7 linked regions of the Homo sapiens genome follow. The protein of the gene in region 3 interacts with the protein of the main gene of each other region in a biochemical or structural test. Each region holds a gene or a part of one and is shown on either strand. Other genes may lie near its edges. The genes, in order: USP20, USP8, USP28, TRIM55, USP4, HIF1A and MAP3K1.

Region 1 (4,126 bases), on a different chromosome or scaffold from region 3:
CGATCTTGGCTCACTCCAACCTCCGCCTCCCAGGTTCAAGTGATTCTCCTGCCTCAGACTCCTGAGTAGCTGGGATTACAGGCGCCCACCACCACACCTGGCTAATTTATGTATTTTTAGTAGAGACGGGGTTTCACCATGTTGGCCAGGCTGGTCTCAAATTCCTAACCTTGAGTGATCCGCCCGCCTCAGCCTCCCAAAGTGCTGGGATTACAGGTGTGAGCCACTGTGCCCGGCTAACAACAAATATTTAAAGGCAGGAAAGTGGCAGTGCTCTTTGGCTCCAGTGAGCAGTCATGGCTCAATAAATAGAAATTTCAGGAGAGCCAATTTCCATTGATTATAAAGACTTAGGTTTGTAGCAACTAGAGCTGCCCTCTGGGAAAAGGGTGATTTTATCATCAACGACTGCTCAAACTGGGTTTGGAGAACAACCCAGTATGGCTTTTACAGAGCAGAGTTGTGCCTTAAGGGGAAGATGCATGGTTTCTAAACCCCTTTAAACTCTGAGATTGCATGGGGGAAGGCAGCTGCAGATCATGCTGCCTGAAAAGAGAGGATCTGATTTCAGGCCCCAGAAATCATGATTTTCCTAGTTCTTAGTTTCCGCATCTCTAATGTGAGTTTTTTCTAAGGTTTCTAGTCTGAGCTTCGAGACTGAGTTTCTGCTCATGCTTACTCACCACTGAGTGTGAGGCTTTTAATGACCTGGGCCAGTGACTGGCTGCAGCCTAGGGTAGCCCCAAACCCACGCCTTCTCCAATTAAGGGACTCTTCCGGACAGAGCTCAGAGCAAAGGGTAGTAGCAGGCTTTGAGCTGCAGGGAGATACTGTCATATCCTAGACTGAAGGAAGTTAAGCTGAGCAGAAAAATGCTCTGAAGAATGACTCAGAAGAGGCTCTTGTGAGGAAGCTTCCTTGGAGTACGCGTGTTTGGATTTGGGGAGGTGAAGGTCGTCCCCATGCCAGGCTGGCCGGGGCTGTTTGTGACATCGTGGAGCTGAGTGTTCAGAGCATGGGCTTCAGGGCAGGTAGTCGTGGGTTCGAATTTTGGTTCTGCAGCTCAGTAGCTGTGTGACCTTAGCCAGTTATTCCACTTCTCTGAGCCTCGGTGTCTCCATTGTTAGTGATGGAGATGGATTTAGTTTGGAACCTTGCCACCTCCCAGGGTGGTTGTGAGGGTCCAGTGAGGTCACATGTGAGAACACCAGACTAAGATGTTAGTGTCAGTTCCAATATTCAGGGCCGTGGGGCAGGGGGAAGGGCGATGAGGAGACACAGAAGTGTGTGGGCAGCAGAGACTGTGGAAGTGTGGAGGCATGGGGAGGCCTGAGGGCTCTGCTTCGAGAGTCAGAGGATGGTGGCCTCCGAGTGAGGACTGGGTTAAGGGAAGGGGTGGGTGTGTCTGGGACTTAGGGAGAATGCTGTTGTGTGGAGGTAGAGTAAAGACAGCAGGAGGGAGAGAAAGGGTGTGCGAGGGCCAGAGGGGACTGTGGAGGGGGTGGGCACACACCCTGTGCGGGGCTGGGGGTGTGAGATGGCTAATGTGGTTGGGGTCAGCGTGGGCAGGGCTGTGGGCATCGTTGTGTGGGTGGGAGGCCCAGAAGTGTCGCCCTCCCCATCCTGAGGGACTGGTTCCTCGCTGGGAGGAGGAGGATGTAGCCAGAACCTCTGGGAAAACAATGAGTAACAGGCACCAGAGGCAGCCAGGTCCAGATGTGCTGCCTACCTAGGACCACAGGCTGTGCTGGCTGGTCCCTCCCCTGCCCTTCCTCAGGCCTTGCCCCTCCACTTTGCCCCTGTGGGTGGAGTGGCACTTTCCCCCACCCTGGAGGCCCAGGGAAGGAAAGCTGCCTTTATGAGCCTGAAGCATCTTGGAGGTCTCCTGGGGCCAGCAATGGTGGGCTCTTTGCCAAAAGTCTCAGGCCTTCCTCCCCCCATCCTGTGCTCTCCTGCCCCAAGAGAGGAGGCTCTGGTGGGCCGGGAGGGCGGGGCACACGCTGCACCTTGCTGACTTGTTGTACAGTAGGTCCTACTCTGCGTGGCTGCACCTGGAAGCACGTTCTTTCAGCTGCACAGGTGTCTTTCCCTTTTGGCCTTTATGAAATGCCTGCTGTGCACACTCCATATATTTGCACAGAGGCACAGGTGGGACGGAAAGAGTGGGGAAAGCAGACACAACCTGCTCGCTTCCTGCTGTGTTGCTTCCTGTCTGGGACCTTCCATTCCTCCTCTGTGAGATGAGAAACAGCCGCCCTTGCCCTAGAGAGTGGGTGAACAAAGCCCTGGGTACCAGGTCTGGAGGCTCAGTGGGTGCTGGGTCCTGGATCCTGCGATGGGGCTGCCTGTTCCAGAAAACCCGCTCCCTGCTCCCACCTCAAAGGTGAGAAAGGGAATCTATTTTTTTAAAAAGTCAAACTTAAGAAAAATTACAAGAATACAATGAACTCCCACATACCCCTCACCTAGATTCACGAATTAGTAACATTTGCCTTATTTACTCTAACTCTAATCTCTATAGTTATTGTCATAATTATTGCTGATTCAGGTAGGAGTAAGCTGCAGACATCACAGTCCTTTTCCCCTAAATATCCCAGCGGGAATTAACTAAGAATAAGGATATTATCATACATAACCAAAGCGTGAGTTCCACCTTTAGAAACTTTTTTTTTTTTTTTTTTTTTGAGATAGGGTCTTGCTCTTGTCACCCAGGCTGGAGTGCAGTGGCGCCATCTCAGCTCACTGCAACCTCCGCCTCCCAGGTTCAAGTGATTCTTCTACCTCAGCCTCCCGAGTAGCTGGGACTACAGGTGCCCACAACCATGCCCGGCTAATTTTTGTATTTTTAGTAGAGACGGGGTTTCACCACGTTGGCCAGGTTTGTCTCAAACTGCTGACCTCTGGTGATCCGCCAGCCTCAACCTCCCAAAGTGCTGGGATTACAGGCGTGAGCCATCACTCCCGGCCTAGAAACTTTCACATTGATGGAATCATGTATTTGTTTCCCAGACCTGCCATAACAAAGTACCACAGACTGGGTGGCTTAAACGACAGAGATTTATTTTCTCACAGTTCTGGAGGCTAGACGTCTCAGATCAAGGTGCCGACAGGTTTGGTTCTTCTGAAGGCCCTTTCCTTGGCCTGCAGATGGCCATCTTCTCACTGTGTCCTGGCTTGGTCTTTCCTCTGTGTGAGTCCGGATTTTCTCATCTCATAAAGATACCAGTAAGATTAGATTAGGGCCTGCCCTAAAGATCTTATTTTAACTTAATTACCTCTTTAAAGACATTATCTTCAAATATGATTACATTCTCAGGTCCTGGTGGTTAGAACTTCAGCATATGAATGGGGGAGAGAGAACAATTCAGTCCATAACAAATACTATGATCTAACAGGCAGTCCACACTCAGGCATGCTGGTTGTCCTGGGGATGTTCTTTGTGGCATCCCCCCACATTGACCCACAATCCAGCTTTGTTATGTCTCCTCAGTGTCTTGCCTGGAACAGTTTCTCAGCCTTGGTGGAGAAAGGGAACCTTCACGTTGCAGGGAAGCAAAGGTGCTCAGCAGGAATGGGGGTTCAGAAGCGCAGGCTGCCCCAGGACAGGGAAGCTGTTGAAGGGTTTGCTCTAGTCCATGAAGTTGCCTTTCCTGGCTTTTTCTTTGATGTCAAAAGCACCAGGAGGTGAGCTTAGATCTCAGGAAGCGCACCAAGAATCCGTGCATGAGTCCCCTGCGGTGTGTCTGACTCCATCACCATGGCGCCTGTTCGTTGCTGGGCTGGTTGGCCTGCAGAGCCCTGAGTGGTCTCATGGAGGGTGCCCTTCTGAGTGACCTTGAGCATGTGACTTCTATTCCTACCAATTTCAGTGTCCTAATGTATAGAACAGCCAGTGACACAAATTATAGTAGTAAACATTTTTTGAGCATTCTTGTCATGCAAATCAATAAAAAATCTGAGCCACCCAGAAAGTCCATGAGGCCCTAAGTCATTCAACTTAGCGTTTACTGTGCATTGGCTCACTTCATCTTCTCAGTAACCCTAGGTGCTGTCATTGTCCCCATTTTATGAATGTGGAGACTGAGCGATTTATCTAAAGTCACAGACTTGCAAGGGGCAGAGTGAG
Region 2 (4,126 bases), on a different chromosome or scaffold from region 3:
TGTCACCAAGCCCAGCTAATTTTTGTATTTTTAGTAGAGATGGGGTTTCACCATGTTGGCCAGGATGATCTTGATCTCTTGACCTGTGATCCACCTGCCTCAACCTCCGAAAGTGCTGGAATTACAGGCGTGAGCCACCGCGCCTGACCCATTTCCAATTTCTTTAACCGTAATACTTTATGTTGTAATGGCATATTACAGTTTTCAAAGCATGTTTTTGTATATTTTTTCACTTGATACCTATGGTCACCCTATAGAAGCAGACAAATAGTTCCTATTTCATTTTGCAGATGAAAGTAAACTGAAGAGTGGTGGTGGTATTGGGAGTGATTTACGGAATTTGTTCAAAGTCATATGATTAATAAATGGAAAGTAAGGCCTGCAACAGTTCCATAATATTAAATTTATTAGTACTGAATGATGAAATATTATATTAAACTTATTTGGAATTCTACATTTATAGCCGTACTAATTTTTTTTTTTTTTTTTTTTTTGAGACGGAGTCTTGCTCTGTCTTCTAGGCTGGAGTGCAGTGGTGAGTTCTCGGCTCACTGAAATGTCCGCCTCCTGGGTTTAAGCAATTCTGCTTCAGCCTCCCGAGTAGCTGGGACTATAGGCACCTGCCACCATGCCCGGCTAATTTTTGTATTTTAGTAGAGATGGGGTTTTGCCATGTTGGCCAGGCTGGTCTTGAACTCCTGACCTCAGGTGATCTGCCCGCCTCAGCCTCCCAAAGTGCTGGGATTATAGCCGTGAGCCACCATACCTGGCCCTTTTTTTTTTTAAACTGAGACAAGGTCTTGCTCTGTCACCCAGGCTGGAGTGCAGTGGCATGACCTTGGCTCACTGTAACCTCTGCTTCCTGGGCTCAAGTGATCCTCCTGCCTCAGCCTCCCAAGTAGCTAGGACTGCAGGCACACGCCAGCACACCTGACTAATACCATACTAATTCAAGTAAAACAGTTCTCATGTATAGTGAATAAGGGTTAACTAAGCCTTGTCTCTTTTGACTAACACATTACAATTTAGTTTTTTGTTTGTTTGTTTTTGAGAGGGAGTCTTGCTCTGTCACCTAGGCTGGATGCAGTGGCATGATCTCGGCTCACTGCACCCTCCGTCTGATGGGTTCAAGCAATTCTCCTGCCTCAGCCTCCCAAGTAGCTGGGATCACAGGCATATGCCGCCACGCCCAGCTAATTTTTTGTGTTTTAGTAGAGATGGGGTTTCACTGTGTTGCCCAGGCTGGTCACGAACTCCTGAGCTCAGGCAATCCACCTGCCTCGGCCTCCCAAAGTGCTGGGATTACAGGCGTTAGCTACCACGCCGGGCCTACAATTTAGTTTTTAATAATGCAGCAGTCTTCCTCTTATCTGCAGGGGATATGTTTCAAGACCTCCAATGAATGCCTGAAACCACAGATAGTACTGAACCCTATATATACTATGTTTTCCCTATATATACATTTTTATGATAAAGTTTAACTTATAAATTAGTAACAAGAGATTAACAACAATAACTAATAATAAAATAGAATAATTACAACAATATAGTGTAATAAAAGTTATGCCCTGTGGCCATAACTTGTGCAACTTGAGGTGTGACAGCAAAACTAGCACAAATTTCTTTTTCCTTCATAATTTTGCAGATAAAAGATCTTACCATAGATCTTAGCAACCTCAGCATGAGGTTTTTGGTTTTTTTTCTTATTAGGTTGAGAACTTTCACCTTTTTGCTTAAAGGAAGCAGTTTACAACTTCTTTTTGACATACGTGAATCTCTGCTTTTACACTTTGAAGCCATGATTAAGTAAAATGAGGGTTACTTGAACACAAGCACTGTAATACTGCTATAGTCAGTCTGGTAACTGAGACGGCCACTTAGTGATTAACAGGCAGGTAGCATCTACAGTGTGGATACACTGGACAAAGGGATGATTCATGTCACAGACTGGGCGAAGTGAGGTGGTGCACAATTTAAAACTTATGAATTGTTTATTTCTGGAATTTTTTATTTAATATTCTTGGACTGTGGTTGACTGCAAGTAGCTGAAACCATGGAAAGCGAAACCATGGATAAGGGGGGACTACTACACTAAATTCTGAAACATACCAATAATGGTGTAAACCCACATGTCTTTTTAATAGAGTAAAATGAAATAATTACACATTATAATACCAATTTCAGAACAAGAGTTATGGGCATAAGCATCCTGGAGGTGTTTTTTTTTTTTTTTTTGGAGGTGTTATTTTAATTTCTCAATTACAGAGTTTTAAAAATGAAAATGATTTTTTAAAATTTTGGTAGGTTGAATGATTTAAGATGCTGATTTCAGCTGGAAACAAATTGTTGCCTTCATATTATTTTGTTGCTCCTAGCAGCATGTTTATATTCATTCTTATATTGATGGTTCCCAGTCTTGACTGGTGTTAGAATTCATTTGGGAAGCTTTTTAAAAATACCTATGTGGGCAAGGCGAGGTTGGCTCATGCCTGTAATCCCAGCACTTTGGGAGACCTAGGCAGGAGGATCACTTGAGCCCAAGAGTTTGAGACTATCCTGGACAACATAGTGAGACTCTGTATTTTTTTAAATATATAAATAAGAAAATAAATACCTGTGTGTATGTCTCATCCATAGAGATTCTGATTTAATTGTTTAGGAGTGGGATCTGAGCATCAATATTTTTTTAAAGTTCTCTAGGTAACTGATTCTAACATACAGCTGGGATTGAGAACTATGTTTTTGGTGCATGTTAAGTACGATCTGGCTCCCTACTTAATGATTTTGCATCTGTTAAAAAATTAATGAGGTAGAAGACAAAAGAAATGGATTAAAGTTATAAATGTAGATAGACATCTATTCTGGAAAACAGTTACCCTTTTGTTAGTTTCTGGGAATGGTCCTTAATAAAACAAACAGACATTGGCCTGGTTTGCTAAGTGCCTATATCACAGCATTAAGCCACACTTTACTTTGTTACCGTTATGTACTTAACTTTCATTTTAAGAGGCAGAAACTTTATTAAGAGTTGTATTTTTTTAGTATCCCCTGTATCACAACACTGCACCTTGTGTATAGTAGGTATCTATTGTTTACCTAATTGAAGCCAGTTTAGACAGTCACTCTTTAGAACTAGGGCTAGTTCAGCTCCTTGGGAGGCTGAGGCAAGAGAATCGCTTGAACCGGGGAGGTGGAGGTTTTGGTGAGCCGAGATTGCGCCACTGCTCTCCAGCCTGGACAGCAGAGTGAGACGTCATCTCAAAAAAATAAAGAACTAGGGCTAGTTTATTCTTTTCTTTTCTTTTTTTCTCATGGCATTCTAAGACTCCCCCAATTAGACAGGGTCTCCCTCTATTGCTCAGGCTGGAGTGCAATGGTGTAATCATGGTTCATTGCAAGCTCAACCTCCCAGGCTCAAGGAAGGCCTCAGCCTTCCGAGAAGCTGGGACCACAGGCGCATGCCACCATGCCCTGCTAATTTTTTATTTTTTTATTTTTTTTTTGTAGTGATAAGGTCTCACTGTGTTGCCCAGCAGTTCACCAAATCCTAGATAACATAATTTTGGTGTCAATACTTAATTATCTTCCAAAACAATAGGGATTATCAAAGTCAACATTGATGCCTTATTAGTTGATAAACAGATTTAATATCTGTCTGCTCTCACATATAACTGATTTCTAGTTAATATTTACATCTTAAGATGTTCCTTTGGCATACACTCAACATTTTCCACATCGAATTACCTACTTTGCTGTAAACCAGTGGTTCTTGTTGGGGGTAATTTTGCCTTCCAGGACACATTCGGCAATGACTGTAGACAGTTTTGGTTGTTACAACTGGAAGGGAAGGATGATAGTAAACTGGCGTCTAGTAGAGGTTAGGGATGCTGCTAAACATCCTGCAGTGCACATTGCACAGAGCAGCCTCTCACAACAAATGTTTATCTGGTCCAAAATGTGAGTGATGGCAAGGTTGAGAAACGCTGCTGTAAACTGATCAGTTTTAAACTGCAGTATTACTTTTTTTGTTAATAGCACTACTGCTCTTCATATTTTGCAGGGTACAGTGTGTGTGCCTCTGTGTGTGTGTGTGTGTGTGTGTGTAAGCAAGAGAAAATACTGTTTC
Region 3 (4,126 bases):
AGGTATGCACCACCACACCTGGCTACTTTTGTTTTATTTTATTTTTTGAGACGGACCGCAGTCTGTTGCCCAGGATGGAGTACAGTGGCGTGAGATCAGCTCACTGTAACCCCCGCCTTCCGGGTTCTATTGATTCTTCTGCCTCTGCCTCCCAAGTAGCTGGGATTACAGGCACATGCCACCACGCCTAATTTTTGTATTTTTAGTAGAGACGGGGTTTCACCATGTTGGCCAGGCTGGTCTTGAACACCTGACCTCCGGTGATCCGTCTGCCTTGGCCTCCCAAAGTGCTGGGATTATAGGCGTGAGCCACCGAACCCAGCCTGTGGTTAATTTTAAAAGTTTTTTTAGCAATGGGGTCTCTCTGTGTTGCCCAGGCTGGTCTCAAACTTATGAACCAAGTCATCCTGCCTCAGCCTCCAAAAGTGCTGGGATTACAGGCATGAGCCACCGTGCCTGACCTCAGATGTTAGTATGCCTTATAAGGGCCTCATATGAGATTTATTTTATTTATTCCTTTTCTTTCTTTTGTCTTTTTTTTTTTTTTTTGAGACATGGTCTTACTCTGTCACCTAGGCTGGAGTAGTGCAGTGGCTCTATCATGGCTCACTGCAGCCTCAACCTCCTGGGCCCAAGCAATTCTCCTACCTCAGCCTACAGAGTAGCTGGAACTACAGACATGTGCCACCATGCCTAGCTAATATTTTTAGTTTTTGTAGAGATGGGGGGTCTCTTTATGTTGCCCAGGCTGGTTTTGAACTCCCGCGCTCCAGTGATCCTCCCGCCTGAGCCTCCCAAAGTTTTGGGATTACAGGCGTGAACCATGGTACCTATCTCTTTTTTTCTTTATTCGTATGAGATTTTAAACTGAAGTCTGTTTGCTTCTATCTTACAGATGAGAAATGCAGCTTATGACCATGATTGAATTATAAGTAGCAGAGCTGTGACTTCAAGCCATTCTGACTTGAAGCATAACATTTCTCCGACTTTAGTACAAGCCTTTCTAAAACCAAAGTTTCTGACTTACCACTTGACTATGTAGCACTTTAATAATTTTAATAACTTTTCATTGAACCCTCATAGGCACTCTATGAAATAAAATTTAGTATGAGCAGGAAGTAGAATTTGCAAAGTGACACAGCAAGTAAGTGATAAAACCAAAACTATAACACAGGATATCAGTATTTTTACTGTAAACTCTAGAGGAGTTTAGTTGAACAGGCAAGTCCCAGTATTTTTCATTTCTATTGCATTTCTTCATTTTGCTAACAATTTATTTGCAGTACTTCCTTTGATAGTCATACAGGGCTGTCAAAGCTTTTGGTGTACTTCATTTTCCATTCTGGAAACTGATGCTGAGGAAGATTGAGATTTGCCAGGAGGCTGATGTGTGCTGGAGTCTGGGCTGCATGGCACTATTTCCAGCGTCTAGGCTTTCTACGTAAAACAGGGGTCAAAATATCAGACACACAAAACCAAACTAAAGATCTGCCTCAGTAAGTACCAGCTGCATGCTACATGATGGCTGGTAGGCACTTTAACCCTAAGAAGATTTTCTAAACAACATTTTCTTTTTCAATCTTCTTGCCCAAGTTAGTACTTTCTTGTGTCCCCTCCCTCCCTCCCTTCCTCCCTTTCTTCCTCCCTCCCTTCCTCCCTCCCTCCCTCCCCCCTTCCTTCTTTCCTTTTGTGTGGGGATGTGTATACAGGTTTCCTTATTCATTTGTTTTTTCATAGAGTTGGGGTCTAGCTATGTTGCTCAGGCTGGAGTGCAGTGGCTATTCACAGGCATGATCGTGGTGTACTACTGTTTGAAAATCCTGGGCACAAGTGATCATTCTGCCTCAGCCTGCTGCAGAGCTGGAACTACAGGTGTGTGCCACTGCACCCAGGTGATTTTTTTTTTTTCAATTGAGGCAAAATTTATATAACATAAAATTATTTTAAAGTGGGGCTGGGTGAGGTGGCTCACTGAGGTCAGGAATTCAAGACCAGCCTGGCCAACATGGTGAAGCCCCGTCTCTACTAAAAAATATAAAAATTAGCCAGATGTGGTGGTGAGCACCTGTAATTCCAGCTACTTGGGAGGCTGAGGCAGGAGAATCACTTGAACCCGGGAGGCAGCGGTTGCAGTGAGCGGAGATCATGCCACTGCACTCTAGCCTGAGTGACAAGAGTAAAACTCTGTCTCCAAAAAAAAAAAGTTCAAGTGTACAAGTTCAGTGACATTTAATATATTCACAATATTGTGCAATCACCAATTCCGTCTAGTTCTAAAACATTTTCATTACCCTGAAAGAAAACTTTGTAACCATTAAGCAGTCACTCCCTATTCCCCCATGCCCTCCACCCCTGGCAATACCAATCTACTTTCTGTCTCTAGATTTACGTATTAGAGAGATTTCATGTAAATGGATCATGCAATATGTGACCTATTATGTGTGGCATCTGTCGTTTATTGTAATGTTTTTGAGATTTGTTCAAGTTGTAGCATGTATGAGTTTTTCATTTTAATCACTGAGTAATATTCCACTGTATGTATAGATATGTTTTGCCTGTCCATTCTTCCATTGACGGACATTTGAGTTATTTACACCTTTTGGTTATTATGAATAGTTCTGTTATGAATTTTCATATACTTGTATTTGAGTACCTGTTTTCCCTTCTTTTGGGTATATACCTAGAAGGAATTGTTGACTCATATGGTAATTCTATGTTTAACTTCTTGAGGAACTGCCAGACTGTTTTCCAAGGTTGCTGGGGAAGTTTTATATTCCCACCAGCAATACACAAGGGTTCTAGTTTTTCTCTTTTCTCATCAAACACTTGTTATTTTTTGTTTTTGTTAGATAACAGTCATCCTAATGGGTGTGAAGTGGCATCTCATCATGATTTTGATTTGGCCATGTTAATGTTATGGCTAATGTTAAGTGTCTTCATAAACTTATTGACTATTTATATATCTTCTTTGGAGAAATATCTTTTTAAGTTCTTTGTCCATTTTTGAATTGGGTTGTCTCGTTTTTTGGTTGTTGACTTAAAGGGAGTTCAAAGAGAGTTTTTTATATCATCCAGATGCTAGACTCTTACCAGATAAATGATTTAAAAGTATTTTCTCCCATTGTCTTTTCACTTTCTTGATAATTTGTACACTGTGTATTTCTTTTTTCTTTTTTTTTCCCCAAGACAGAGTCTGGCTCTGTCACCTAGGCTGGAGTGCAGTGGTCTGATCTCGGCTCACTGCAACCTCTGCCTCCTGGGTTCAAGTGATTCTCTTGCTTCAGCCTCCCAGGAAGCTGGGATTACAGGCGCGTGCCAACACACCTGGCTAATATTTGTATTTTTAGTGGAGATGGTTTCACCATGTTGGCCAGGCTGGTCTTGAACTCCTGACCTTAGGTGATCCACATTGGCCTCCCGGAGTGCTCGGATTACAGGCATGAGCCACCGTGCCCGGCCAGCACTGTATATTTCTTGTTGGATTTCTTGATGTATGTGTTTATTTCTTGAATTTGTATACCGGTTGTCTTTTCACTTTCTTGATAATGCCCTTTGATGCAGAAAAGTACATCAGCCCACTTCAGTGTCCCAAGTAGCTGGGACTACAGGTACACACCACCATGCCTGGCTCAAAAGTGTTATTATTTTTTTCTTTTGTTGCTTGTGCTTTTGGTGTCATAGCTGAGAATCCATTGACAAATCCAAGGTCATGAAGACTTATCTCTGTGTTCTAAGAATTTTATAGTTTTAGTTATTTATTTAGGTTGTTGATCCATTTTGAGGAATTTTTGTGTATTGTGTGAGGTAGGGGTCCAGTGTGATTCTTCTGCTGTGGATATCCAGTTGTACCAATACCATTTGTTGAAGACATGATTTTTCCCCCATCAAATGGTGTTGGCACTCTGGTTGAAAATCAGTTGACCACAGATACGAGTTTATTTCTGGATTCTCAGTTCTATTCTGTTGGTCTATATATCTGTCCTTATGCCAGTACTACACTGTTATGATAACCGTAGCTTTGGATTAATACTAAGTTTTGATATAAGAAGTGTGAGTCCTCCAACTTTGTTCTTCTTTTCAATGTTGTTTTAGTTCTTCCAGGTCCTTTGAAATTCTGTGTGAATTT
Region 4 (4,126 bases), on a different chromosome or scaffold from region 3:
AGAGATGTTAAAACTTGCAGTATTGGTAAAACTACAAAACACATCTTCACCTTAGCTATGAAGTTGGCTTGGTGCAGCTGCCAAAAATAGTACCCAGGCCTGGGAAGTAAATTGCGTAAAAGCAATGAACCAAATTTCCAACAATAAAGCTCATAGTTGAGTGAACTAGGGATGCTTTTGTGATTTTCTGTGATTTTGTTATGCTGTTTTTTCTTGAACTTGAGACTTTCCTGTGGGACAATTTTACTTGGTAGCAAAACCACAAGTTGCACAGAGCACTTGGCCACATGTCTGGGAGGAAACGCAGTTGTCCCCTGGGGGCAGACAGCCTTACTAGACCAGAATCTTGAGCCTCAGGGTACATTAGGTAACACTGGAATGACCTTGGATATACAGAATGAAAAGAGTTCAGCTGTGGCTATTGGAAGGGGGTCGGGGGGGGTGACCAATCACAGACTGGGATGTTGTCAGTCAACTCTGACCTCCTCCAGAAAGGCTGGAGACTGTAAGTCTCCACAAAACCTAGCATTCTTTTTTTTTTTTTTTTTTTGAGATGGAGTTTTGCTTTGTTTCCCAGGCTGGAGTGCAGTGGCGTGATCTTGGCTCACTACAAGCTCTGCCTCCCAGGTTCACGCCATTCTCCTGTCTCAGCCTCCCAAGTAGCTGGGACTACAGGCACCTGCCACCACGCCCAGCTAATTTTTTTGTATTTTTAGTAGAGATGGGGTTTCACCGTGTTAGCCAGGATAGTCTCGATCTCCTGACCTCTTGATCCACCCGCCTCGGCTTCCCAAAGTGCTAGGATTACAGGCATGAGCCACTGCGCCCAGCCAAAACTTGGCATTCTTATCCAGAATTCTGCATGGTGCCAGACTAGCCACAGTTGGGAGTGGGAGATGGTAAGAGAAGGTACTATTTTGGCTAATATTAATAATTAATATAATAATAATTAACTTTAAAATATAACAAGTAAAACTACTATGTGCTGCATGCCAGACACTGTTCAGGGTGCCTAACACATGAATCATGTGCAATTCTTTAATTCTCACAATAATCCGGTGAGGTGTTGATTATTATAATTACTGCTACCCTATTAAAGCTTTTAGTGCCTTAAAGTAATCAACATACACAACTTTTAGAATTCATTACTACTGGGCCTCTGAAGAGAAATGCAGTCTCCACTCTGTTCTCTCTTTACCCACCCCCAAGCCTCATTCCCCAGAGTCAACCACTTTTAATTCTTTTAGCTGTTTTTCTGCTATTTATCACCAATGACATGTGCATACTACTGGTATGCTCCTATTCTTTGATTTTTCAATTTTAGACATTTTCTATTGACTTTCCACTGTAGACAATTAGGACTGAGCCCTCACATGGCTGGGCTTTACCTCTACTTGGGAATTCTTTTACTCTCCCCCTGGGTTGAACCCCTTGCTCCCTGGATTCCAGGTCTCCTTGTTTGGTGGCTTACTCTCTTATTTCTATGGAGCACATCCTCAAGTAATCTCTTAAAACATGCACAAAGTCCTCCTCTTTTCAGCCTCTCCCAGTCTGTCACCGCCTACTTCCACCTTCAGGACTACTGGCTCCTGCAGTTCCAGAGCCTTTCCAGGGTTCCATAGCTCAAGTCAGCTTGCTTATTGTAAGCTTCTCACTGCAGGAATGTAACAGAACTAAGATGCAACTCAAGTAGGTCATGTCCCTTCATCCAGATGTTCCTAATTTCCAACATTTGGTTGACATCTCTCATCTGCTGTCATCTGTGCTCACTTTTTGTCCTTATTGATTTATGCCCTTTTATTTCCTTATCCTCATTTCACTGGGATTTCAGCAGAATAAATACATAAATACATACATACATATATAAATACATAAATAAATACATGCTTGTGTTCATTCTGCCACATTTAATTAGAAGACCCTTAATCTGATATTTGATACGAGTAAAAACTGAGACCAGAAGAGGTTAAGTAACTTGTCTAAGGCCACATAGCCACTACATGGAGAAGCTGAGCTGAAATGAAGCTTTAAGATCAGTTTGGGCAGGCACAGTGGCTCACGCCTATAATCCCAGCACTTTGGGAGGCTGAGGTGGACAGATCACCTGAGGTCAGGAGTTTGAGACCAGCCTGACCAACATGGTGAAACTCCATCTGTACTAAAAATACAAAAAAATTAGCCAGGTGTGGTGGCAGGCACCTGTAATCCCAGCAACTTGGGAGACTGAGGCAAGAGAAATGCTTGAACCCGGGAAGGTGGAGGTTGCGGTGAGCTGAGATTGAGCCATTGCACTCCAGCCTGGGCGACAAGCAAAACTCCATCTCAAAAAAAATATCAGTTTGACTACAAAGTTACTACTTCAATTGCCTCACCAAGACCAGATGCCCACTCCTCAGGAAACTCTAGGGTGGCCCCGGGAACCTCAGAGACCAGAGACAGCAGGCTACATACTTCTCAGTCTAGCCTACACTGAACGGTGAGGGGCCACAGCCAACATTTAGCACTGGGCCCTGACCACAGCTGTGAGCTTGGCTGCTCTCACCTCATAAACATGTATTTATGTCATTCTTTTACATGCCAAATCGGTCCCAAGTCAGTTACATGTTTGAAGTTGTACAGAGGTTTCATTATATGCTCATCTATGAGTAAGTGGTGCCTCTGGGGCTGGGCTACAACCTAAATAAGAAAAACCCAATGAGGAATATGGGAAATTGTTCTCAGTGTATACAGCACCATGAAAAAAATAAATAAATTGAATCACAAACAAAACTAAATGTAGAGCCTTATGGCTGTTTTCACATTTTCAATATTTGCATATACTGCATAGACCTGTGCTCTATGACGCAATCTCTGGTCACAGCTGTTGATATCAGAACAGCATGTGGGACCCAAGCTGCCCACTCTTGCTTAGCCCACATTAATAATAAGGTGGAGATACCTACGAGGGAAGGGTTTAGAGGGGAAGAAGCCTTTGACCAGGCAGAGACCAACTTGCCAGTCCCAACCCCAGAGGGCACTGTCATTTATTAAAGGAGTAATCAGGATGTGGTCTGGTCTCTTCCTCTGCCACTCAGGAGTGCCAGGTGATCCCAGGCTTTCCCCATATTTGCCATGCCTTCTCCAGCTGGGTGGTGTTACACTAGAGCACAGGGAATACTGTCCATTTAATAGGTCAAATTCCCTTTCATTGTCTCACTCATTTGTGCAACAAATATTTATGGAGCCACTGCCTCTGTGCAAGGCACTGTTCCGAGTACTGGAGATGCAGCAAAAAAAAAAAAAGACTCATCATGGCCCCTGCCCTTATGGAGCTGATATTCTAGTGGAGGAAACAGACAGACCTGAGAGGAGGATAATTTTCTCAATTGTGGAGTTGACTTCCTTATTTGAGTTCCAAATAATGTGGTCAAATCAGAAGGTCATAGACTTCATGGAAAGCATATTGCTGCAAGACCAGACAGAAATTCCTTTTGCAACAGTCAGATTCTAAAATTTTGAAACTGGAAGTCCGTGCAATTTTCTTACAAGACCCAGGGCTTCTCCCAATGTTTAGCCTAATCTCAAGTAATTGACGTCCACCTAGCAACTTATAAAGGAACATTAGCGTCTTACAGAGGCACATCAGCACGTTCTCTGCCTTTCTCTGAGTTCTGGGTCTGCAGCTACAAGATACCACACATCAAAAAAGATGGGTTTCAAACACTTGTATTCATGATTTACAGTAGGAAGTGCATTTTACATTGTGACCACTTACATATATGGACGGATATATATACACACACATATGTATATACACACATACACAAACACACACACACACACAAACACACATATACTTTTGTTTCAGTCACATATATACACACGTACACCTGAAACAAAAGTTTCGAACAGCAATACTTATTTTTACTACATGTAATTCACAGTATTTGCTATTCCATTCTATTTTTATTTTAACAATGCAGATCATAGCTCCCTAAATTGATTTCATGGCTCATAAAAACCTGTAGTTTTTAAAAATTGGATCTGTATAGCAACAAAACAAAATGTAGTCCCAAATCTAAGATGTTGCTAAATAACTATGTGTTTGGAAATTTGAAGAAAGCTTCTGGATTTGGATTTGAATTTT
Region 5 (4,126 bases), on a different chromosome or scaffold from region 3:
TCTCTATTAAAAATACAAAAACAAAATTAACCGGGTGTGGTGGCGGGTGCCTGTAGTCCCAGCTCCTCGGGAGGCTGAGGCGGGAGAATAGCATGAACCCGAGAGGTGGAGCTTGCAGTGAGCCGAGATGGCGCCACTGCACTCCAGCCTGGGGGACACAGCGAGACTGTCTCAAAAAAAAAAAAGTTACTGCTCCATTGCAATGTACCTAGTTACCCAAGAGCTCTGATGGAGATGCATGAGGAGATTAATGTTGTTTCATGCCTACTAAAAACATCCGTTCTGCAGCCTGTGAGTCAAGAAGTAATTTCAACTTTTTTTGTTTGTTTGTTTGTTTGTTTGTTTGTTTTGAGACAGAGTCTCACTCTGTTGCCCAGGCTGGAGTGCAGTGGCTCAGTCTTGGCTCCCTGCAACCTCTCCCTCCCAGGTTCAAGCAATTCTCCTGCCTCCTCCTACCAGGTTCAAGTAATTCTCCTGCCTCAGCCTCCTGAGTAGCTGGGATACAGGTGCCCGTCCCTCCACCTGGCTAATTTTTGTATTTTTAGTAGAGACCAGGTTTCACCATGTTGGCCAGGCTGGTCTCAAACTTCTGACCTCAAGTGATCCTCCCGCCTCAGCCTGCCGAAGTGCTGGGATTACAGGCCTGAGCCAGCGTGCCTGATTTGATTTCAACTTTCAAGTCTTATTATTTAAGAAATACATTTTATAAGACTTTATCTGCCATAGATAGTGATTCTCCTGAAGGATCTGGGCAAATTAAATTGAAAACCTTTTGGAAAGGATTTACCATTCTAGATGCCATTAAGAATATTCATGATTCCACCTGGTGCAGTGGCTTATACCTATAATCCCAGGACTTTGGCAGGCTGAAGTAGGTGGATCCTTTGAACCCAGGAATTGGAGACTAGGGTGGGCAACTTGGCAAAACCCCATCCCTATAAAAAATACGAAAATTAGCTAGGCCTGGTGGCATGCACCTGTAGTTCTAGCTACTTGGGAGACTAAGGCAGGAGGATTGCTTGAGTCTGGGAGGTCGAAGCTGCAGTGAGCTGTAATCATGCCACTGCACTTCAGCCTGGGTGATAGAGTAAGGCCTGCCACTCCCACCTGCCCACACACACACACAAAAATATTCATGATTCATGGGAGGTCAAAATCAACATTAATAGGAGTCTGGAAGAAGTTCATTCCAACACTTACGGATGACTTCAACGGGCTCAAGACATCAGTGGGAGAAGTAACAGCAAAAGTGGAAATAGCAAGAGAACTAGAATTAGAAGTGAAGCCTGAAGATGTGACTGAATTGCTTTATTTTTTATTTTTACTTTTATTTTTATTTTTTTTGAGATGGAGTTTCGCTGTGTCACCCAGGCTGGAGTGCAGTGGCGCAATCTTGGCTCACTGCAACCTCCGCCTCCTGGGTTCAAACAATTCTCCTGCCTCAGCCTCCCAAGTAGCTGGGCTACAGGTGTGCACCACCATGCCCAGCTAATTTTTGTGTTTGTAGTAGAGACGGGGTTTCACTACCCTGGCCAGGCTGGTCTTGAACTCCTGACCTCATGATCTGCCCACCTCGGCCTCCGAAAGTGCTGGGATTACAGGTGTGAGCCACTGCGCCTGGCCTATTTTTAATTTTAATTTTTATTTATTTTTATTTCTTTTGAGACAGAGTCTTGCTCTGTCACCCAGGCTGGAGTACAGTGGGGTATCTCGGCTCACTGCAGTCTCCACCTCCTGGGTTCAAGCAATTCTTATGCCTCAGCCTCCCGAGTAGCTGGGACTACAGGCATGCATCACCATGCCCAGCTAATTTTTGTATTTTTACTAGAAATGGGGTTTCACCATGTTGGCCAGGCTGATCTTGAATTCCTGACCTCAAGTGATCTGCCTGCCTCAGCCTCCCAAAGTGCTGGAATTACAGGCATGAGCCAACATGCCCGGCCTGAATTGCTTTAATCTTATGATAAAACTTGAATGGCTGAGGAGTTGCTTCTTATGGGTGAGCAAAGAAAATGGTTTCTTGAGATGGAATCTATGTCTGGTGAAGATGTTATGAGCATTGTTGAAATGACAACAAAGGAACCCTGCCCTGAAAAAGGTGTGTAAACTAGTCGGAGGGATGGTGGGAAACCATAACCACCTCATGTATGATTTATTTATTTTTGAGATGGAGTCTTGCTCTTTCACCAGGCTGGAGTGCAGTGGCGTGATCTTGGCTTACTGCAACCTCTGCCTCCCGGGTTCAAGCAATTCTCCTGCCTCAGCCTCCCGAGTAGCTGGGACTACAGGTGCCCGCTACCACACCCGGCTAATTTTTATATTTTTAGTAGAGACGGGGTTTCACCATGTTGGCCAGGCTGCTCTCAAACTCCTGACCTCATGATCCAACCGCCTCAGCCTCCGAAAGTGCTGATTACAGGTGTGAGCCACCACACCCAGCCTGGAGTTTTTCTTTTTTATCCTCTTCTCTCCCTCCAATTATAGAAGAAATACAAATTCCTCATAAAATCTTCATGGATAAAGAGAAAACATGGATAAAGACAAAAGTCTGCTCTGTATAATGACCAGTGACAGAATTTTGGAATTTCATTCCTGTTTCTTTCTGTAAATAATTTTCTTATTTCTGAAAAGTACATGGAAATCATGTAAAACCATCATTTCTGGGGTAAAGAGCAGTGACTTATGTGCTCTTTTCCTTTTTTAGATCCTGAGAGTCAGACCTTGAAAGAACACTTAATTGATGAATTGGACTATGTATTGGTCCCTACCGAGGCGTGGAATAAACTACTAAACTGGTACGGCTGTGTAGAAGGCCAGCAACCCATCGTCAGAAAAGTGAGTTATGTGAATTGTCCCACCTGCTGGTCACTGTCTGCAGGTGCTTTCTGTTGGACACTGACTAGTGTTTGCTAGGAAAATGAACATACCTCAGTGGTTGAATAGTGGTGCTTGAGGCCTTGTTTCTGGATCTCTTTTTTTTTTGAGATGGAGTCTTGTGCACTTGTCGCCCAGGCTGGAGTGCAACGGCACGATCTCGGCTCACTGCAGCCTCTGGCTCCCAGGTTCAAGTGATTCTCGTGCCTCAGCCTCCTGAGTAGCTGGGATTACAGGCGCCTTTCACTACGCCTGGCCAATTTTTGTATTTTTAGTAGAGACGGGGTTTCGCCATGTTGGCCAGTCTGGTCTCAAACTCTTGACCTTGTGATCCGCCCGACTCGGCCCCCCAAAGTGGTGGGATTACAGGCGTGAGCCACTACGCCCAGCCTGTTTCTGGTTCTCTTTAGGAAATTGTGGTTGTGAGTGAAGTTGCTCACCCAGAATATTATCATGAGTGGCCTCTAAACATCAGAGCTGCCCAGTGGCTTGGAATGTGCCCAGCAGCGCTGTGAGAGAACTTTCTGGAAAATTCTATGAGAGAAAGTTCACTGGGGGCATATGGACATATAGCTAATGTCCTGCATCTTGTTTATCTTAAAAAACCTTTATGATACTGCTTTTCCCTCTATGCTTAAGAGTCTTTGAGCTAGGCGCAGTGGCTCACATCTGTAATCCCAGCACTTTGGGAGGTTGAGGCGGGTGGATCACGAGGTCAGGAGATCAAGACCACCCTGGCCAACATGGTGAAACCTCGTCTCTGCTAAAAATCCAAAAATTAACTGGGTGTGGTGGCACATACCTGTAGTCCCAGCTACTCGGGAGGCTGAGGCAGGAGAATTGCTTGAACCCAGGAGACGGAGGTTGCAGTAAGCCGAGATCACCCCACTGTACTGCAGCCTGGCAACAGAGTGAGACTCGGTTGCAAAAAAAAAAAAAGAGTCTTTGATCAGGCCGTGCATGGTGGCTCACGCCTGTAATCCCAGCACTTTGGGAGGCTGAGGCAGGCGGATCACGAGGTTAAGAGATCGAGACCATCCTGGCCAACATGGTGAAATCCTGTCTCTACTAAAAATACAAAAATTAGCTGGGCATGATGGTGGGCCCCTGTAGTCCCAGCTACTCGGGAGGCTGAGGCAGGAGAATCTCTTGAACCCAGGAGGTGCAGGTTGTAATGAGCTGAGATCGCACCACTGCACTCCAGGCTGCTGACGGAGGAAGACTCCATCTCAAAAACAAAAAACAGTGAAGA
Region 6 (4,126 bases), on a different chromosome or scaffold from region 3:
TAGGCATGCAGTGCATAAGGATAAATGGAGTACCTATCACCTCAAGCATTATCTTGTGTGACAAACAATCCAGTTATACTCTTTTGGTTATTTTTATTTTATTTTATTTTATTTTTTTCTTTTGAGACAGGATCTCACTCTCGCCCAGGCTGGAGTGCAGTGGAGCAATCTCAGCTCACTGCAACCCCCGCCTACCGGGTTCAAGAGATTCTCCTGCCTCATCCTCCCAAGTAGCTGGGATTATAAGCATGTACCACCATGCCTGGCTAATTTTTGTATTTTTAGTATAGACAGGGTTTTGCCATGTTGGCCAGGCTGGTCTCGAACTCCTGACCTCAGGTTATCCACCTGCCTTGGCACCCGGCCTCTTTTAGTTTCTTTAAAATGTACAATTAAATTATTTTTTACTATAGTCACCCAAAACAAGTACCTTTGACATAAGATTTGATTCTGAATTTTACTCAAATGAATGTTAAGATCCCCAAGATAAGTTAAACTTTGGACTATCTCACCTGTTTAATCTGTACCTATGCATGACTTCCCACTGTGCTTGAGGATACCTGAATATCACTGAGTTTGTGTGACTGATCAGCCTTGAACTCAAGAGTAAATCCAAGTCTGCAGTCAGGACACCCCAATCCTCAAAATAATACCATCATTAGCATTTATTTAGTACTTTCTCCCAAATCAGTATTTAATTTAAATTGCCAAAAGACTTACAATGTGGTATCAATTTATATTTAAATATGCTACATATAGCTTTTTAAAGCATCTTTGGTTCTCTGGAAACCATAGTCAGAATTTAAGGAAGTTATTGTGGCACCATTTTCTTGAAAAAGGCTATTGATTATTCTCTAATCTGACACCAACCTAAGTCATTAAAGGAATTTTAGTTACTGAAGATTGTATATTCATGAACTCTTCACTTAGCTCACTGGCAGCAAAGGAGTTTTATTTAGGGGGTTTGAAAAAGGAAATGGGTACATTTTCAGCTATTCTGGGACGCACTGTCAGAATGTAAGCAGTTACAACTGATTCCACTAAATAAACATTTGTTTTCCAAAACAATGATGAACATTCAGCATCTGTTCATTTAATTGAAAATTCAAAGTTAAAATATTTTCTCTGCATGATTCTTTTTCTTTTCCCCCCTAGTGTTTACTAAAGGACAAGTCACCACAGGACAGTACAGGATGCTTGCCAAAAGAGGTGGATATGTCTGGGTTGAAACTCAAGCAACTGTCATATATAACACCAAGAATTCTCAACCACAGTGCATTGTATGTGTGAATTACGTTGTGAGGTAAGTAAGTTTGAGAAATAAACATTTTTGGGGAACAAATAGTAATTCTTTTTGGATACTCTGTTCATTTATAGGAAGATAAGATAATAAATATTAACTAAATTTTAATTCTTTTACATCGCTACCAAATTATTATTTTCTATACTCTGACCTAGGTTTCCAGTCCAGCTATTCCACAGTGATGCTGCTAAACACTGTCAGTAGTTGTCTATCCCCATACCTTCACTCCTATTTTTAAAAAGACCATGAAAAAAATACCAGATCCATTGATTGGTTTGGTCTAATTATACAGATATCGGCATATACTATCTCAAGACAGCTGTGTTCTTTTTGTAGGAAGAATCCTGGCCTAGATTTGTATCATAGCTCTACCACTCATTAGCTCCCTGACCTTGGGGAAGTCTCTTCATTTTTCTGAATTTCATCTATGTAGATAATCCTTCAGAAGGTTATAATGAAAATTAAATGAAATTCTATGAGATTAGGGAGGGGGGAGGGATAGCATTAGGAGATATACTTAATGTGAATGATGAGTTAATGGATGTAGCACACCAACATGGCACATGTATACATATGTAACAAACCTGCACGTTGTGCACATGCACCCTAGAACTTAAAGTATAATTTAAAAAAGAAAAGAAATTCTATGAGATTAATAAGCTATATGATGTAATACATGGCTCTTGTATATTCATGAACTCTTCACTTAGCTCTTTGGCTTGTGAATATTATGTACATCAAAATTTAATTTTTCATTTGATCTATTTTACTAGACTCCTGCCCCATCTAGTCTACCTGTCCACATTATTACCACATTCTAGTCCATCTTGCCCATTACTACCAGGCTAAGCTTTCTAGTGTGGATATGTCATCATCTTATTTTCCTTAGAATTTTAGCGATCTTTTTATCATTTCCAAGATAAACACTTGCCTAGGTGTACAGCATCCTTGTTTACCATCATACTCACGCATTAGAGATTTAGCCTTCCCTTTAAAATCTAGGGTCACTCCTCTTAGGAAGACTTTGGGCAGTTTTTATTTTTGCTACTTCTGACACCATCCTTTAATGTTTTAATATTAGTGCCACAGAGTTCTTTTGTGACTTTACCATTATGTAAGAATCTTCCACTTGGAATGTCTTTCTCTTCCTCACACCCCAGTCTGCCTAGCAAATGCCACTTGATCCCAAGTATCAGCTTGTTAGCTTCTCAGTGAAGCAAGCCTTCTCTATTTTAGCAGTTATCACAGTGTATTTTAATTGTTTACATATCTACTTTCACAATGGGTTATAAATTTCTTAAGGTCAAGGGTTGGCTATTTTAATCTTTGCATTATCAGTTCATTTCAGATAGTGAACATTTAATACGTTAATTAAAGGAATAATTTACATTTAAGCCAAACGTGAAGATAAACTATTGCTCATCATCCCTCTTCAGCCGTATCCTGTAGGTGGTATCACCTTATATTCTTACCACCAAAGAAAATATGGCCCCTCTCTTAGAAAGATCTTAATCATTTATCTGTGTATCTTTAGGACTATCCTTAGATCATGCCTCACATATTGATGCCAAAGAGTTCTTTTGTGCCAATTTCATAATGTGTGTCAGCACAACAATTCTGAAGATTTGTTGGTGTCTTTCATGTACTTGACTACAAATTGCCTTGCCATTACTACTCTTCTCAAAGGATATCTGAAATTCTTTTTTTCTTTTTTTTTTTTGAGATGGAGTCTCACTGTCACCCAGGCTGGAGTGCAGTGGCGTGATCTTGGCTCACTCCATTTCCCGAGCTCAAGTGATTCTCATGCCTCAGCCTCCCAAGTAGCTGGGACTACAGGTGTGCACCACCACACCGGGCTAATTTTTTGTATTTTTAGTAGAGACAGGGTTTTGCCATGTTGGCCAGGCTCTTGAACTCCCAGGCTCAAGCGATCCACCCGCCTCAGCCTCCCAAAGTCCTGGGATTACAGGCATGAGCCACCACGCCCAGCCTGGATATCTGAAATTCTTAACTGAAATTAGTCAAATTATCTTGTACTGGGGATTTTTTTTTTAATTTCAACTTTTATTTTTGATTCAGGGGATACATGCATAGGTTTGTTACATGGGTATATCATGTGATGCTGAGGTTTGGGGTACAATTGATCCTGTCACCCAGGTAGTGAGCATAATACCCAACAGTTGTTCAACCCTTGCCCCTCTCCCCTAGTAGTCCTCAGTGTCTATTGATGCCATCTTTATGTCCACAAGTAACCCAGTGTTTAGCTCCCACTTACAAGTGAGAACATGCAGCATTTGGTTTTCTGTTCCTGGGTTATCTCACTTAGGATAATGGTCTCTGGATGCATCCATGTTGCTGCAAAGGACATTATTTCATTCTTTTTTATGGTTGCATACTGTGGATTTTATTGGGTCTTTATTTTGTATTAGCATTTTAAAACCCTAAATGTGACACAGTACGCATGAGTGATCATGCATCTCAAGAAATCTTGAAATGTTCCTGTCCATAAAGCAGAATTTTTTAAGAGACCATTTCACAGTCTCCCTTCCCCTCACTGTATCAAGTGCTCATTTGTGAATTACCAATTTCTCTTGTTTTGACAGTGGTATTATTCAGCACGACTTGATTTTCTCCCTTCAACAAACAGAATGTGTCCTTAAACCGGTTGAATCTTCAGATATGAAAATGACTCAGCTATTCACCAAAGTTGAATCAGAAGATACAAGTAGCCTCTTTGACAAACTTAAGAAGGAACCTGATGCTTTAACTTTGCTGGCCCCAGCCGCTGGAGACACAATCATATCTTTAGATTTTGGCAGCAAC
Region 7 (4,126 bases), on a different chromosome or scaffold from region 3:
GATGAGCCATCTGAATCATCCAAACATCATTAGGATGTTGGGAGCCACGTGTGAGAAGAGCAATTACAATCTCTTCATTGAATGGATGGCAGGTATGTTAATGTTTTAAATTACAAAATAGTAGTACGTGGATTTAACTTTCTGCAATTTAGGAAAAACCAGTTTAATTAAAATTTATTTCTATCAAATAGTTTGGGTTTCTAAAAACAAATCACCCCAATATATTAGTATGAACCACAAATACTTCGTTTTGTATTTCATTTACTATAAATGAAATATTGACTACCTCTACCTTTTAAATTTTTCCAGTGTGTTTTTAAATGATTGTGTAGCATTGTTGTTTTTAATACTTGATATGTATAAGATATGTATATTTCCAGGTAGCCATGATAAATTGGACAGATGAGGAAGTGTTTTAACATAACAATATACAAACAAAATTAACATATAACTTGAAAACTTACTACAAGTAAACTAGCACTGAAGCATAAAGTTGAACCTTGTCATCTGCTGAAATAAATGAAGACTGAGTTTTATTTTGTATTATACAATGTATACAATAAAATTAATGACCTGATGTGATGAACAGATTGTTTGGTTTAACTTCTTAGATTTGTGTGTGTATTTAAGAGTGCATTTCTCTTTACCAGTCAGTTCTTAAGTATGTTATCTGTTGGTTGGTCTTAATAAAGATTTACACTACAGTAGATAGGTTGACTACTATAAACACTTTTAAAAGCGGCTAAATTTGAGACATGTTCCAGGTCAGAGCTAGTAAATGGTAGAATATGACGCCTAACTCTGGGTTTTCTGTTCCTCCTCCCATTCTTTCCACCTTTTACTACATAATATGTTAACATTGTTTACTTTAGTCATTAATAAAGTTGTTTTGTGTATTTTGAGAAGACAGAGAATTGAATTGTACATTTCAGAAATAGTTTAATCCGAAATTGTTAACTTTTACAGCTTTCTGAAATCTTGACTCTCCAATAAACTGGTTTCCCTGTGGGTTCTGTGAAAATGTCTCCTAATTAGTAGGTTTTTGAGATGATACAGGAATATGTTAGTTTTGAAATGTTTTTCTTCTGTTTCAGATGTGAATGTGAGTTCATGCAGTGAAAACTTTAGAAACCAAAGTGTAATAAATACTTTTAATTCTGTCTTAAGTTTATGATAATTATTTCTATTGTCTTATAGGGGGATCGGTGGCTCATTTGCTGAGTAAATATGGAGCCTTCAAAGAATCAGTAGTTATTAACTACACTGAACAGTTACTCCGTGGCCTTTCGTATCTCCATGAAAACCAAATCATTCACAGAGATGTCAAAGGTGAGAATTCTTCTAATTATTATCTAGTGACAATAAAAAAATTAATTTTAAAATTTGGGGCCAGGCACAGTGGCTCACACCTGTAATCCCAGTACTTTGGGAGGTGAAGGCAGGTGGATCACTTGAGGTCAGGAGCTCGAGACCAGCCAGGCCAACATGGTGAAACCCTGTCTCTACTAAAAATACAAAAATTAACAGGGTAAGGTGGCGCATGCCTGTAATCCTGGCTATTTGGGAGGCTGAGACAGGAGAATTGCTTGAACCCGGAAGGCAGAGGTTGAAGTGAGCTGAGATCACACCACTGCACTCTAGCCTGGGTGACAGAGTGAGACTCTGTCTCAAAGAAGAACAAAAAAATGGACCTTTGTTGATAGTTTCTAACAGTGGGATTTTTTTCTCTGAGTAATTCAGAATATTAGAACTGAAATGAGCCTTAGGGATCATTTAATCTGCCTTCCTCGTTTAATAGAAAAGTACATTGAATACAAGAGAGGCTGTGCCTTTTCTACAGTTTTATTGCTAGTTAATGGCAGAAAGTATACAACACAGGTCTCCAGATTCCCTGTCTTGGCCTCATGATACGCTGACTCCCAGAAAGTTCCTTTTCCTGGTTTTATTTTGAATAATTGGGATATTGGGATATCATCAACTTCTTTTAAGAAAAATTCCTTCAAATCCTTTGTAGGTCCCATTATTTTCCTTATCCTTTTCTTTTTTTTGGAGACAGGTTCTCTGTCACTCAGGCTGGAGTGTAGTGTTGCAAACTTGGCACACTGTAACTCATTTCCTGGGCTCAAGTGATCCTCCCACCTCAGCCTCCCAAGTAGCTAGGACAACAGGTGTGCACCACCATGCCTGGCTAATTTTTTATATTTTTTGTAGAGATGGGGTTTTGCCATGTTGCCCCCAGGCTGGTCTTGAACTCCTGGGCTCAAGCGACCCGCTTGCCTCAGCCTCCCACAGTGCTGAGATTACAGGCGTCAGCCACCGTACCTGGCCTCAGTTTATTTTTCTCAAGAGCAAATTTGGTTTTCTGTCATTAGTCTTTTTAGCTAGTATTTGACATAATGTGTTGAAGTAATTTTATAACTTTTTAAATTAAGCTCTAATTATGAATTTAGCGTACGCTAGAGAGAGCTGTGTGCCTTTAGCAAGAATGAAGTGAAAGGAAAAGAGAATAACTGTTTGCACCTCTGACATGTAGTTCACTTCTTTCTTTTGTCATTGTCCTAGTTCATTAGTATTGTACTGGGCTTTTATCTGTCCTTATTTTTGTTTTTAACATACAAGGTCATTTGCTGTGTTTGTTGACAGGTGCCAATTTGCTAATTGACAGCACTGGTCAGAGACTAAGAATTGCAGATTTTGGAGCTGCAGCCAGGTTGGCATCAAAAGGAACTGGTGCAGGAGAGTTTCAGGGACAATTACTGGGGACAATTGCATTTATGGCACCTGAGGTGAGAAGCATCTTTGAGTGTGATGACAGAAAATATTTTGGAATTCTGTGTAACAGCATTATACTAAATTATCTTGCAGTGGTATCCAGTATGTACTTACCAACTAGAAGTCCGTGGCCCTTAAAATACGGTTTTAATAATATCTTTCAGACCCTTATTCTCGACCTTTCTTTGCCTTGGCAATATTCAAAAAACAGGTTTTAATAGATTTACTTAACGGCTGTTACTAATAAAGAATTCTGGGGTAATTTATAGCAGTTGTTTTGTAATAAACTCAAAGTGCACATAAGAAATTTTTAAAAATATTCTCTCTCTATTCTAAAAGGAGATGAGCATACAGAGGCAGCTCCTGTCTGTAGTGGAAGGAGTTTAAGCATTGTTCTTCTGACTCAGCTTCTTCTGTCGTGTTCATAATTCTTCATGTTCATATGTAGTAATGATCTGTTGTCCTCTTGCCACATAGTTTGCTAAGAGCAAAATTCTGTGATGGGACTCTGCTTCAGAATCTCACAATTCTCCAAAATATTTTTGTGCTACCTGGAAAATTAAGCTCATTAATGAAATAAATTAGATATTAGGTAGTCCACAGAATTCCTGTTTGTACCAGTTTTCTCCCTAAAGTAAGGAAGTAGAATCTATAACTACAAAATGGCCTTCTCTTTTTCAAATGAGTCCTATTTCCAAATTAACTCTGATTTATTTTAGGTACTAAGAGGTCAACAGTATGGAAGGAGCTGTGATGTATGGAGTGTTGGCTGTGCTATTATAGAAATGGCTTGTGCAAAACCACCATGGAATGCAGAAAAACACTCCAATCATCTTGCTTTGATATTTAAGGTAATTGTGAGATAAAAATTACTTCTTTGTGCTAAAAGGAGTACAGCAGAATTTGGCAGGAGGCAAATTTTGATGGGTTCTCCCTAACAATCTAGCATGAAGGTAAATAAATAGTCTGTATATTTATTCAGAGAGGATTTGATATACAAGTTTTTTACTTTAAGATGGTGCAAAAGCAATACAAATTTGGTAAAAACCATACTTTGAATTTTGATTTTTGTCTGAGCTAGCAATATGTGCTATGATACACTGGTGATGCTAGGCAGTGGCAGCGAGTCACAGCTCCCAGTCAGCCACACAATCACGAGAGTGAACAACCAATACTCTATAGTGGACTGTGTTGTCAGATGATTTTGCGGAACAGTAGGCTAATGTAGGTATTATAAGCACATTCAAGGTAGGCCAGACTAAGCTATAATGTTTGGCAGGTTAGGTGTATTAACTGCATTTTCAACTTAAAAAAATATCATCAACTTAAAAGGGGTTTATCACGACATAACCTC

What was found.
Region 1: of the proteins of USP28 (region 3) and USP20, one has a biochemical effect on the other in vitro, tested with the Homo sapiens proteins (one large-scale study listed by BioGRID).
Region 2: of the proteins of USP28 (region 3) and USP8, one has a biochemical effect on the other in vitro, tested with the Homo sapiens proteins (one large-scale study listed by BioGRID).
Region 4: of the proteins of USP28 (region 3) and TRIM55, one has a biochemical effect on the other in vitro, tested with the Homo sapiens proteins (one large-scale study listed by BioGRID).
Region 5: of the proteins of USP28 (region 3) and USP4, one has a biochemical effect on the other in vitro, tested with the Homo sapiens proteins (one large-scale study listed by BioGRID).
Region 6: of the proteins of USP28 (region 3) and HIF1A, one has a biochemical effect on the other in vitro, tested with the Homo sapiens proteins (one study listed by BioGRID).
Region 7: of the proteins of USP28 (region 3) and MAP3K1, one has a biochemical effect on the other in vitro, tested with the Homo sapiens proteins (one large-scale study listed by BioGRID).

Annotation. Positions count from the first base shown.
Region 1 is NC_000009.12:129,838,104-129,842,229, forward strand, and holds part of USP20 (ubiquitin carboxyl-terminal hydrolase 20), read left to right. Parts: intron 1-4,126.
Region 2 is NC_000015.10:50,427,087-50,431,212, forward strand, and holds part of USP8 (ubiquitin carboxyl-terminal hydrolase 8), read left to right. Parts: intron 1-4,126. UniProt on the Homo sapiens protein: Hydrolase that can remove conjugated ubiquitin from proteins and therefore plays an important regulatory role at the level of protein turnover by preventing degradation. Converts both 'Lys-48' an 'Lys-63'-linked ubiquitin chains.
Region 3 is NC_000011.10:113,865,349-113,869,474, reverse strand, and holds part of USP28 (ubiquitin carboxyl-terminal hydrolase 28), read left to right. Parts: intron 1-4,126. UniProt on the Homo sapiens protein: Deubiquitinase involved in DNA damage response checkpoint and MYC proto-oncogene stability. Involved in DNA damage induced apoptosis by specifically deubiquitinating proteins of the DNA damage pathway such as CLSPN.
Region 4 is NC_000008.11:66,130,129-66,134,254, forward strand, and holds part of TRIM55 (tripartite motif-containing protein 55), read left to right. Parts: intron 1-4,126. UniProt on the Homo sapiens protein: E3 ubiquitin ligase that plays an important role in regulating cardiac development and contractility, muscle growth, metabolism, and fiber-type differentiation.
Region 5 is NC_000003.12:49,326,395-49,330,520, reverse strand, and holds part of USP4 (ubiquitin carboxyl-terminal hydrolase 4), read left to right. Parts: intron 1-2,704; coding exon 2,705-2,835; intron 2,836-4,126.
Region 6 is NC_000014.9:61,732,983-61,737,108, forward strand, and holds part of HIF1A (hypoxia-inducible factor 1-alpha), read left to right. Parts: intron 1-1,155; coding exon 1,156-1,303; intron 1,304-3,906; coding exon 3,907-4,126.
Region 7 is NC_000005.10:56,884,735-56,888,860, forward strand, and holds part of MAP3K1 (mitogen-activated protein kinase kinase kinase 1), read left to right. Parts: coding exon 1-92; intron 93-1,197; coding exon 1,198-1,329; intron 1,330-2,643; coding exon 2,644-2,786; intron 2,787-3,491; coding exon 3,492-3,623; intron 3,624-4,126. UniProt on the Homo sapiens protein: Component of a protein kinase signal transduction cascade. Activates the ERK and JNK kinase pathways by phosphorylation of MAP2K1 and MAP2K4. May phosphorylate the MAPK8/JNK1 kinase.